Linked DNA regions of Homo sapiens. Each later gene encodes a partner of the first gene's protein in a complex. Each region holds a gene or a part of one and is shown in the gene's direction. Other genes may lie near its edges.

Region 1 (8,000 bases):
CCAAACCTCAGCATCACGCAATATACCTATGTAACAAACCTGCACACATACCCTCTGAATCTAAAAAAGAACAGCAGGGCCTTAAATGGGGTGATGCCTTACAGATGTAGGGCATCATATCCATAGGAGACATTCGCCAGGCATAAGGATCCTCTGGAGAGACACATCAGCTTGAGGAATACAGGGTGGTGGCTCTGTCCAGCCACCCTGCCCCATCTCCTACCCTCCCATCCATTCTGCATTGGGTGCCTCCTGCATGCAGAGTCCTCCTCCAACAGCAAATGCCTCCCAGATTTGCTGAAGGGCCTGCTCCAGGGTCTCTGTGGAGACGCCCCTGGGACCCTTGCTGACCACCCTCCACAATCTGCACCCCCATCCTGTGCCCCCTTCGTTTTTTTTGTCCCACCACTACCTGGTGGTGAGACAGCTCTGTAACCTGCGCCTAGAACAGCGCCTGGCACTCAGCCGGTGCTCTGCGAGGATCTGGGGGAATGAACGAATGATTGAATGAATGAATAGGTAGGAAGACTACCTGAAGGAGGATGTTGGCCAGGAAGCCTGTGGTGGCCTGGCTGTTCTAGCAGCCCAGCCCTGGCCCGCAGATGCTGATCTCACAGCAGCCACACACCCTTCCCTTGGTCAGCCTCAGCTTCCCCATTCCTCATGCATTCTTGGTGACTTCTGAGGCTCCTCCCACTGTGGGCCTCTGACCCTGCTGGAGGAACATGAGGTGAGCCTGGTGAGCTGAGGGATGTCGGCAAACAGCCCTGGAAGGTTGGTGTGAGGTAGATTGAGTGCCATGTTTCCAGAAGGTTCTGAGGCTCTGGGACAGCCTGAGAGCCTGAGAGGCTGGGAGAGGGTTGCCTTCCTGTTCATGCTGGCTGATAGGTCTGTCAGTCTTTGCATCTAGGACAGCCAGGGCTGGACATGTGCACCCACCGGAATGATAGAGGAGGGGCTTTCCTCAGTGGAGGGTGTGTCCTGGAGAGAGCAGGTGGCAGCTGGGAGGCTACAACCCTGCGGTCCTGCTCCCTCAGCTGATGGGGGCCCTCCTCACCTCCTTGCTCACACAGAGAGTGGCCACTGGGCTCGGTCAGGCCCCACTTGTATTGTCTGTCCTACCAGGCCATCCACCCTTACTCCCCCACCCTCAGCCCTTGGCCTCACCTGAGCCCACACCCAGCCCAGCCCAGCCCCACCTTACCTCACCTGCGCACCTGGCCTTACTCCCTCCTCTCAGTTCCCCACCCATCCCCCTTCAGCTCCTTGGAGCTTGCAGGGAGCTTGAAGACAATCCCTTGTCCAGTCTCTCTCCTGCCTCAGTGTCCCCAAGCCAATGGGACCCCATACCCCCAGAGCAGCAGGCTGTGGCACAGCTCAGGGCCCAGGAGACAGCCCTGGGGGCCTCCAAGAAGCCTCCCTAGTGAGTTATTAGAATTTTTTTTTTTTAGATGGAGTTTCGCTCTTGTCACCCAGGCTGGAGTGCAGTGGTGCGATCTCAGCTCACTGCAGCCTCTGCCTCCCGGGTCCAAGTGATTCTCCTGCCTCAGCCTCCTGAGTAGGTGGGATTACAGGTGTGTGCCACCACACCCAGCTAATTTTGGATTTTCAGTAGAGGCGGGGTTTTACCATGTTGACCAGGCTGGTCTCAAACTCCTGACCTCAAGCGATCAGCCTGCCTCGGCCTCCCAAAGTGCTGGGATTACAGGTGTGAGCCACTGCATCCGGCCTAGAATTTTTAAAATATGGAGGCTTGACCTGCCTGACCGCCCTGCCTTTTCACTCGTTTTCAGAATAATGAGCAAAGCAACCTGCAGAAGATCAAATAGGATTTTTCAGTATTATCATGAATGCATGGGCTTTTCAGCTATTTGATGTGTTTTCATCCATGACTCTTTCTGATGCTCAAATTGTCCCATTGTTGATCAGCCCCTTCTCAAACTTGACAATGAACAATAGTAGGATATACCTTTTTCCTAAGATAAAATAGCTGAGGAGTCTATGCTAATATAGTCCATTCAATTTAAGGACTGGTTTGTACTTCTTTGATTTTTTAAATCTGTATCACTTTTATACTGAAAATCTTGGTTCCAAAGGAATTTAGCATCATTCTTTGATACACACACACACACACACACACACACACACACACACACACACACAGAGTTCTTTGGGATCCTTTGGTTGAGTATTAGTGATCATATTGATCATGGCACTCCATCGTGTGACTGTACCACAGCACAGCTGAAGCGATTGAAGGACATTGTGATTGTCTCTAGACTTTTGCTAATATAAAAAATGCTGTTTTGACTATCATTATGTATATGTACTTTTCTATTTTTCCTACATATCTTTGGGTTATTTCCTAGAAGTGGGGTTTCTGTGTCAAATGATACATTTAGTAATATCGCTAGGTCTCTTTTCTACCAGTGATGAGGAGTGCACCTGTGCCTGCTGCCTCTCCCACAGAGTTGCCATCAAAAGTCTGGATTTTTGCCAATCTGATAAGCAAGCAGTGGTATCAGAGTGTACTTTTCATTTGCATTTTTCTTGTTATAAATGAGGTTGAACATTTTTTCATAAGTGCAAAGGTCATGAACCCCATTTCCTATGAACTGCTCATGTCTTCTGCTCCCTTTTCTATAGGACTGTCTGGCAGGTTCCTCACCTCAGTTTTGATGTTCTTTATGTATCAGTGATATTAATCCTTTGTGATCGAAACTGCAAATACTTTTCCCATTTGGTCATTTGTCTCCTTTACTTTGCTAATGGTGCTTCTATTTTAATTTTTCTTATTTTATCTGTTGCTTTTGGATTTCAAGTCATAGTTGGAAATGTTTTCCCGATTCACAGGTTCTTGAGGAATTGACCTGTACATTCTTGTAGAATTTGCATGGCTTCATCTCACCCTTTACACTTGAGCCTCTGATTCATTTGAGATTTATTCTCGTGTGCGGTGAGATGGACCCAAGGTATGCTTTTTCTTTCTTTATGACTGTCCAGTTGTCCAAACGCTGCTTATTCAAAGCTCACCTTCCTCCTGCTGAGGTGGGAGGGGAAGGCAGAGACTCCATGCAGGTGTATGTATGTTCACCCGGAAAGTAACTGCTGAATGCGTGCTGTGTGCCCTGCAGAGCTGACTGACTGCCCCCATCTTCTGACCCGCTGCCCTTCTGCACCTTCACTGATATGCTTCCCAGGAAGGTACCCTCTCCTCGGCCTCCCTTGTGTTATCACAGCGCCCAGCACAAGCTGGGACCCACTCCATCCACTCTTGCTGCAAATACAGACTGTGCACTCCTGTGTGGCACCTCACTAGGGTGGGGAGTCAGGCGTCAAGGGCCTGGGCTGGACTCCGTCCACGATAAAAGAGCAGACTTTTGGCAGGGGGTGGTAGATACATCAAATTGACCCAGGGTGCTCAGGGACGACCTGGAAGTGTCACATGAGTTATGGGTCTCCTGGCGGGGCGGAGAGTCACCGCTGAGCTCCACCTTTAGTCCCTGCCTCAGGGCTGTGTGCAGTATCCTGAAAAAAGCCGGTCTCTTCTGTTGGCTGCCCCCCACCCCCCCCCCAAGCCTGAGACGTGCTGAGACCCAAATGCCAGTAGCGGGCGGGAGGCAGTGCAGAGACCTGTGAAAATCTTCCGATGTGACCAACCCACCCCCACCCAGGGGAATCCACGGGGCGCAGCGGCAGCGCGGTCTCGACGGTGGGGAGGACAAGGCGCCCATTCTCCAAGTTACTAGGGTGGCGCAAGCGCCTCTCCCTTTAACTGCCCAGGCAGCCCCGCCTGCTATGCCCGGCAGTCAAACCAGGTCCAGACCCCGGCTGTGCCGCCCCCACCCCCCAGCAGCCCTGCCGGCTCCCCACCCACACAGCTCCCACTGGGAGGTACCTGACAGTGGTGGTCCCATCTCACCCTCCCGGTCCAAGGGCCCTGGTGGGAAGCGACCCGAGCGTATTCGCCGCCCGCAGCTCGCGCGCCTGGGCACCCGGGGGCGCTCACAGTGATCGCGGGGCCAGCACACCCTCACCCAGGACATCCCTTTCCTCCCCCCAACCCCAACTCCGGAGTGGCTCAGAGGGAGGGAAAGTAGATGCCGGCACCCTACCCCGCCCCTCCTGCCCCCGCTGTGCCGTTCTCGGTCGTGGTATCGGCCAGGCCTTACCCCTTCCTCCCTGGCGCAGCTGGGGTCCTCCTCCGGGCCAGGCAGAGCAGGCGGGCATCAGAAGTGGGGGCCAAGCAGGTGGGTGAGGGCAGGGCAGGAGCAAGCAGGGGAGATGCAGACGGGGCGGGGCCAAGCAGGTGGGTGAGGGCGGGGCCAAGCAGGTGGGCGGGGAGGGGGCGGGGCCAGGCGGGGTAAATGCACACTGGAACGGGGCCAAACAGGTGGGCGAGGAGGGGGCGGGGCCAAGCGGGATAGATGACACGAGCGGGGCTAAGCAGGTGGGCTCGGGCGGGGGTGGGGGTGGGGGCGGGGGCGCAGGCGGGGGCGGGGGCGCGGACAGGCCAAGCCAGGGGGTGAGGCGGAGGCAGGGCCAGGCCGGTCCGTGGGGAGAGGGCGGGCCAAGCCGGTGGGCGCGGGCAGGGACGCCCTGTGCGCGCCGGACCGGCGGGGGCGGGGCGTGCAGGCGGGGGCGGGGCACGCCGTCCCATGGGACCGGCCCTCGGCCACTGCCCCCTCCGGCCCCGCCCCGAGCGCCCGGGCTGGGCCGGCAGCGGCCCCCCGCGGCGGGGCTGGCAGCAGTGGCTGCCCGCACTGCGCCCGGGCGCTCGCCTTCGCTGCAGCTCCCGGTGCCGCCGCTCGGGCCGGCCCCCCGGCAGGCCCTCCTCGTTATGGCCGCGGCCTCCTCCCCGCCCAGGGCCGAGAGGAAGCGCTGGGGTTGGGGCCGCCTGCCAGGCGCCCGGCGGGGCAGCGCGGGCCTGGCCAAGAAGTGCCCCTTCTCGCTGGAGCTGGCGGAGGGCGGCCCGGCGGGCGGCGCGCTCTACGCGCCCATCGCGCCCGGCGCCCCAGGTCCCGCGCCCCCTGCGTCCCCGGCCGCGCCCGCCGCGCCCCCAGTTGCCTCCGACCTTGGCCCGCGGCCGCCGGTGAGCCTAGACCCGCGCGTCTCCATCTACAGCACGCGCCGCCCGGTGTTGGCGCGCACCCACGTCCAGGGCCGCGTCTACAACTTCCTCGAGCGTCCCACCGGCTGGAAATGCTTCGTTTACCACTTCGCCGTGTGAGTATCGCCACCGGCGACGGCCGGCACGAAGGTGCTTCCTGAGAGCTGGTGTGGGGGAGCTCTGTCCCAGCGCCACCTGCCCCGTCGGAGCTGCGACCCCGGAGCAGAGGAGGGAAGGAAGTGGGGAAACGCAGAAACACAAACTCTGCACTCTCCCTTGAAGTTCAGAGGCGCTGCTGTGTCTGGGGGTGCGCATCTTCTCGCAGGCCCGGCGTGGGGAGGGAGCCGGCTGGGGAGGGGACCACCTGGAGCCCAGAATTTGGCTCCACACCTCCGGGAGGGTAGTCCAGGTGTGAATCCTTCTGGGAAGAGAAGCGTGCTGGGGAGCGCACCCTTGGGTGCAGTAAGATAACTCCTCAAGGTCGGCTGAGACTCGAGGCTCAGGAGCCCCCAAGAGAGAAGGCCCCTGATGTCCGGTGCCGCATCTCAGACCCCCTGAGGCCCAGGTGGACTCTGGGGCAGGGGGCTGTCCAGGATAGGAAGGTGACGGTGGCGGTGCTCCCTGAGGGCTCAGCATGCCACGGGCCGTCCCCACGGGCCCCACATTAACTAATTGAACCAAGCTCATGAAAACCTGGCTTGATGCAGAGAGCGGAGAGGCACGTTTGCAGCTCTCACTAAGAGGCAGCTGTGCTCCCGGAGAAAGCAGCGCTGGTAGCAGAGGCACCTGGCCCCCCTGTTACCAGGTGGTTCCAATTCCCGGTACAGCGTGCCTGAGCAGGGCTGGGCACTGGATTTCTCAGGGACAGGCCTGGGAAGTCACCTCCGGGAAGGTCCAGGCTGCTCTCCTCCATGCCTGCCTGGGGCCTTCCCCCGCTGCCCCAGTGGCCCTACTTCCTGGCTGCCCAGCCAGCGGCCTTTTGGTGTGGTGCCAGCCTCTGGCCTGGGAGCCTCTACCCAGACATCCCATGGCTGATGGCTGTGGGGCTCACCTGAGGGCTGAAGGGTGGTCTCCCTGAGCGTCCTCAGGTGGAAGCATCTCCTCTGCCTCGGGCAGGCTCAGTAGAGAACTGGCTGGAGGGCATCCAGAGGCCTGTCCATGCCTGCTGGCAGCTGCCACCAGGGCCTCAGGGCGGGTGACAGCAGGAGCCAGGCCCCAAATGGCTTCAAGCATCGTCTCAGGTGAGGGGGTGGGGTAGGGGTCGCAGGGCTACTGCCTTCCTTGCTAAGAGGTGGCCTTCCACATCAGGAAGGGGAAGTCTTACCCACCTCCCTCCTCAAAGATGTGGTTGGGGGGTGATCTTGGAGACTTTTCCCCACCCCAGCTCCCAAGCCCCTGTCTCCTGACATGTCAGTGGGTGCCTGAGCCACAGCCGCTGCTGGTCTGTGAGAGGAGCTGGCTCTGCTCGTGGCTGCAACAGCGGGGGCTCGGCTTGGGGTTTGGGAGATATTTGTGTGCAGTGACCCCAGGGGAACCCAGTCCGATGCCACTGTGCAAATGTCTAGCAGATGCCAGGTTCACAGGTGCTGTGTGCTGGTGGCCACCTGCCTCCCGGACCCCAGACTCTCTGAGATGTCCAAGGGTGGGAAGACCTCCTCAGCCAGAGGCCAAGGCAAAGTGCCCGCAGACCCCCTCAATTCTCACTTGTATTCAGGTTTGTGGACACATGCCTCCGGGCTCACTGCAGCCACCCGTGTGGAGGAAGAGGAGGAAGAGGGCTCGCCACGCCCCAGAGGAAGTCTCTGCTTGCACTTGTGTTTTCTTCCTCATTTGGATTGTTTAGGTCTCGGAAGTTTGCTCAGCAAGAGTCTACCTTCGCCCAGCCTCCGCAGAGCTGGCAAGGCAGGGGTGGCTTCTGGGGACAGGGGCAGGATGGCTTCTGTGAAGGGGTGGCCAGGAAAGGGATGCTTCTGTGAAGTGGCCAGATCTGGGGCTGGTCCTTTCCAGTTCTGGGTCCTGTCCTTGTAAGACGTGTGCCTGGCCCTGGGAAGTTGTCATGAACAGCCTCCAACCCAGGTACCTCCATGTGGGGTGGGACTGGAGGTGGACCCTGACTGGGCAGGACATGTGGCTTGGTGGGGGCCTGGGAGATGCGCTCCCACCCTCAGTGCCCTAGGAGGTTGGCAGGACCAGTCTCTTGAGGGGAGACCTGGTCATAGAACCAGGATGGCAGAGTAGCTGGAGGCCACCTGCAGCCTCACGAAATCAGGTCCAGCCTTGCGCCAGTCCAGCCTTGTGTTGCTGTAAGAAGTCTTGGCAATGGTGGCGGAGACAGGGCCCTGTCCTTAGGTGGATTGTGAAATGAGAAATATTGTGGTTTCTGGCCTGAAGACGACAAGCCTGGCCTTGAAGAGCCAGGGCCCAGGCATGTGTGCAGGGGGGTTGAGGCAGGAGCCGGTGTTCCGCTGACCCTACAGGGCTAGGGCGAACTCTCCTGTGTGCGCCTGGGGAAGCCAGCCAGGATATCCTGTCCCCTCCTCGGGGAACCCCCCCTCCCCAGGAGAGCAGCTCTTCCTGTGTTCCTTCTGGCCTCCCTGGGCTGGCCGGGGTGGACACGGCACCTGGGCCACAACTCTTGCCCGCTTAGGCTTCCTGCCCCCAACACCCCCAGTTATCTGTGGTTGCTTGCGCCCCCACTGGGGGCAGCTCCCATCTTAGCTGAGGGGATGGGGGTCCATACAGCCCTGCTGCACCCAGCGGTCCTAGCTCCCTTGCTGTGAGCCTTAGCCAGGGGTGTGGACATCCAGGTGGCATCTACTCTGGTTGCTGAGATGCTTGGAGATCCTGGTTGTGGCCAAGGAGAGGGATTTGAGGGGGGACCTGCAGTGCA
Region 2 (3,493 bases), about 72 Mb from region 1:
CTCTCTCTTTTCTTTTGCCACCAGAGCTTCTACCGAGTCTTCCCCCACCTCAATCCCTGTTGCTATGGAGACTACCAATGGAACGGAGACCTGGTATGAGAGCCTGCATGCCGTGCTGAAGGCTCTAAATGCCACTCTTCACAGCAATTTGCTCTGCCGGCCAGGGCCAGGGCTGGGGCCAGACAACCAGACTGAAGAGAGGCGGGCCAGCCTACCTGGCCGTGATGACAACTCCTACATGTACATTCTCTTTGTCATGTTTCTATTTGCTGTAACTGTGGGCAGCCTCATCCTGGGATACACCCGCTCCCGCAAAGTGGACAAGCGTAGTGACCCCTATCATGTGTATATCAAGAACCGTGTGTCTATGATCTAACACGAGAGGGCTGGGACGGTGGAAGACCAAGACACCTGGGGATTGCGTCTGGGGCCTCCAGAACTCTGCTGTGGACTGCATCAGGTCTCAGTGTCCCTATCTGTAAGATCAACAAGAAACACGGTTAAGGGAGGTCGTCACTGGGGTGGGAGAAGAGGGGCTGGTAGACCGAAGCCTTGTGCATAAGGATTTTTTCCCAGGAAAAGATAGACTTTATAAACAGTGGGAGCCCATGAACAAACATATAAAAGTAGCAACAGATAATGACCAATAACTGGTTCAGTGGCTGGAGTATTAGGGGCCTGGGGATTGGAGAACGGAGAAGAAGTTGTAGCAGAGGGAAATGAGACAGGAAGATGCTCTGGGGACACATTTTTTATGTGTTATCTTCAGCCATGAGAAGCAGTGATGACTATCCCATATCACAGATATGATTTACCACCACCACCCTGCCCCCGCTCCCGTGAAGAAAGCAGGGCAAGTGCTGTGCTGCCCATTTGGGCCTGCATAGTGCCATGATTGGAACCCAGGAACTCTGGTCTCCTTGCCTAGTGCTTTTCAAAACTCTGTGCTACACAGGAGTGGATCCAGGCCTGAAGGTCATACAATTCTGGGGACTCTCTTTAAGAAAAAGAATTCTAAAATATCTTACTTTTGCAAACATTATGAAAATATACTGCCACATTAATATGTTGCTAGGGCCCCTGCTAGGACCTTAAGAAGGAGCTCATGTGAGTCAGGACCCTGAATGTTAGGCCTCGTTAGCTCTATGGTTCATATGCTTCTTGAACCAAGTCACAGGGCACTTCCCAGCCACATTGCCAGGCAACAGGACTAAACTACCTCCAAAGCAAGCAGTCTTTTCAGTTTTGACTGAGTGATGTGAGAAACTTCTTTTCTTTTCTTTTCTTTTTTTTTTTTTGAGACAGTCTCCCTATGTCACCCAGGCTGTGGTGCAGCAACCCAATCTTGGCTCACTGCAACCCCCACCTCCCGGGTTCAAGCAATTATCCTGCCTCAGCCACCTGAGTAGCTGGGATTACAGGTTCCTGTCACCACACCCAGTTAATTTATATATATATATATATATATATATTTAAGTAGAGACAGGGTTTCACATGTTGCCCAGGCTGGTCTCGAACTCCTGTCCTCAAGTTATCTGCCCATTTTGGTCTCCCAAAGTGCTGGGATTACAAGTGTAAGCCACCACGACTATCTGAGAGAAGTTTTCTGATGTCATGTTGAATCTGCTTCTAAAAGACTGATACTGCCAAGGTGGGCGGATCACCTGAGGTCAGGAGTTCGAGACCAGCCTGGCCAACATGGTGAAACCCCATCTACTAAAAAAATACAAAAATTAGCCAGACCTGGTGGCGGGTGCCCGTATTCCCAGCTACTTGGGAGGCTGAGGCAGGAGAATTGTTTGAACCCGGGAGGTGGAGGTTGCAGTAAGCCAAGATCACGCCACTGCACTCCAGCCTGGGTGACAGAGCAAGGCTCTGTCTCAAAAAAAAACAAAAACAAAAACAAAAAAGACTGATATCGCACCTAAATTATTATTATATTAAAAGAAGCAGAGTATGAGAGACAGGTACATGGTCCAGTAGGAAGAGAAGCAGCCCTGATTCTACCACTTAAGGTGATGTATGATCTTAGGCTGGACACTTCTCTCCCTCATCCGTTTTCCTCTTCAACATAATGAAATAGACTTGAAAGTCTCTAAGGCTCTATCAGTTCTGACATTCTAGGCTTCATATACATTAAGTTGAGCCATATGTAATCACTGTGTTTGTAGGTTAGAAACAGCTGAGTATCGTAGTTTCATATATGGTTCCAGCTAATACATGCAATGTGGCTGGTGAACACTTCTGAATTCAGAAACTATCCCAGATCTCAGCTAGAACCATCCACTGTTCTGTTTGTCCAGTTTCAACTTAAGGGATCTCCATGCGGTCCCTGGAAGTACCCATTGAAACATGCGTATTTGTGTATAGCAGAACTCTGAAATAATATTCTGACAGCAGTTATCTCTGAGGAATTGGGTTATAGGTGATTTTCCCTTTCCGCATGATAAATTTATGTAATATTTGACTGACTTGACCGTAAGTATGTTACTTGTATAATAAAAGGAAAAAAGGTACTTCTATTTTGAAAAAATAAAAATAAAAGCCTTTGGGTTCTTGAATGGAGGATCATGGAACACATTTGCTGCCATATGCAGTTATGTTGATGCTCTGCAAACCTGTGCTGAGCCCTGTTGCTCAAGCCCTTCCTCATCTCTTCTTGAGGGAGAAGGTGGAGACTTCCTTAAGGAGATGTGACATATGGGAAGACAACAGATTCAGAAATTTACGTGGATAGGACTTTAGACACCACCCAGCCCAAACTTCCAAATAAAATATGGAACGCAATTGGGTGTAAGAATGAATGGTTAGGTGATGAATGCCATAAGGATTTTGAGAAATGAAATTGACTAGGAGGAGTCAGACACTTGAATTCATTTAGCTTTTAAAACCCTCATAACAACCCTATGTAGTAAGTAGGTATTCCTTACAAGTATTTCCACAGAGGTGTTTCTGCTGTAGCACCTTCATGTACCTTCAGCCCAGTTTAGGTCCCATGGTAGAACTTGAGAGAGGTAGAACTTGAACTGGGCTTTGAAAGCTAGGACAGAGCTAAATGGGCAGAGTGAATGAAGGGATCAAGATCAGGGAAGCTTGGAGGCAGATGTTGGGGAGCTCCCTCCTGGAGAGGGCAGGTAGGCTGGGGAGACAGCAGGAAGCAGGCCTCCTGGGGCTACTCCATGACTTCAGTGTCCCCAGTGGAGAAGGCTCCCCTTCACACAGTCCTCACACTCCATGGGCATAATCATAAAATAATACAAATTATTTTGGTTGTGAGTTACAGGCACCTGATGTATATTAGCATAAGTACAAAAGGGAATTTCTGAGGTGTATGGGGTAGCTCAAAGTTTAAAGAAGGAGCTGCAGACACCAGGGCAACTCCAGGGATCTCGGGGCCTGGAACAACGGATCTGTCTGAATTCACAAACTAAGAACTTGGTATGTTTCCTTACACACACCCAGGTTGGACTAAATAAAAATCTAGGATTTGAAG

Evidence for each region.
Region 2: the proteins of KCNQ1 (region 1) and KCNE3 are in contact, whole or in part, in a cryo-EM structure (PDB 6V01), measured with the Homo sapiens proteins. Residues at the interface, in NP_000209.2 of Homo sapiens: Arg116 (codon at 5,186), Pro117 (codon at 5,189), Thr118 (codon at 5,192), Gly119 (codon at 5,195), Trp120 (codon at 5,198), Cys122 (codon at 5,204), Phe123 (codon at 5,207), His126 (codon at 5,216), Phe127 (codon at 5,219), Phe130, Leu134, Leu137, Ile138, Val141, Leu142, Ile145, Gln147, Tyr148, Arg181, Met238, Val241, Asp242, Gln244, Thr247, Lys362, Asn365, Ile368; in NP_005463.1 of Homo sapiens: Asp54 (codon at 224), Asp55 (codon at 227), Asn56 (codon at 230), Ser57 (codon at 233), Tyr58 (codon at 236), Ile61 (codon at 245), Met65 (codon at 257), Phe68 (codon at 266), Ala69 (codon at 269), Val72 (codon at 278), Gly73 (codon at 281), Leu75 (codon at 287), Ile76 (codon at 290), Leu77 (codon at 293), Tyr79 (codon at 299), Thr80 (codon at 302), Arg81 (codon at 305), Ser82 (codon at 308), Arg83 (codon at 311), Val85 (codon at 317), Lys87 (codon at 323), Asp90 (codon at 332).

Annotation. Positions count from the first base shown.
Region 1 is NC_000011.10:2,440,259-2,448,258, forward strand, and holds the start of KCNQ1 (potassium voltage-gated channel subfamily KQT member 1), read left to right. Parts: upstream 1-4,749; 5' UTR 4,750-4,840; coding exon 4,841-5,226; intron 5,227-8,000. UniProt on the Homo sapiens protein: Pore-forming subunit of the voltage-gated potassium (Kv) channel involved in the regulation of cardiomyocyte excitability and important in normal development and functions of myocardium, inner ear, stomach and colon.
Region 2 is NC_000011.10:74,454,135-74,457,627, reverse strand, and holds the end of KCNE3 (potassium voltage-gated channel subfamily E member 3), read left to right. Parts: intron 1-24; coding exon of another isoform or gene 25-64; coding exon 65-376; 3' UTR 377-2,787; downstream 2,788-3,493. UniProt on the Homo sapiens protein: Ancillary protein that functions as a regulatory subunit of the voltage-gated potassium (Kv) channel complex composed of pore-forming and potassium-conducting alpha subunits and of regulatory beta subunits.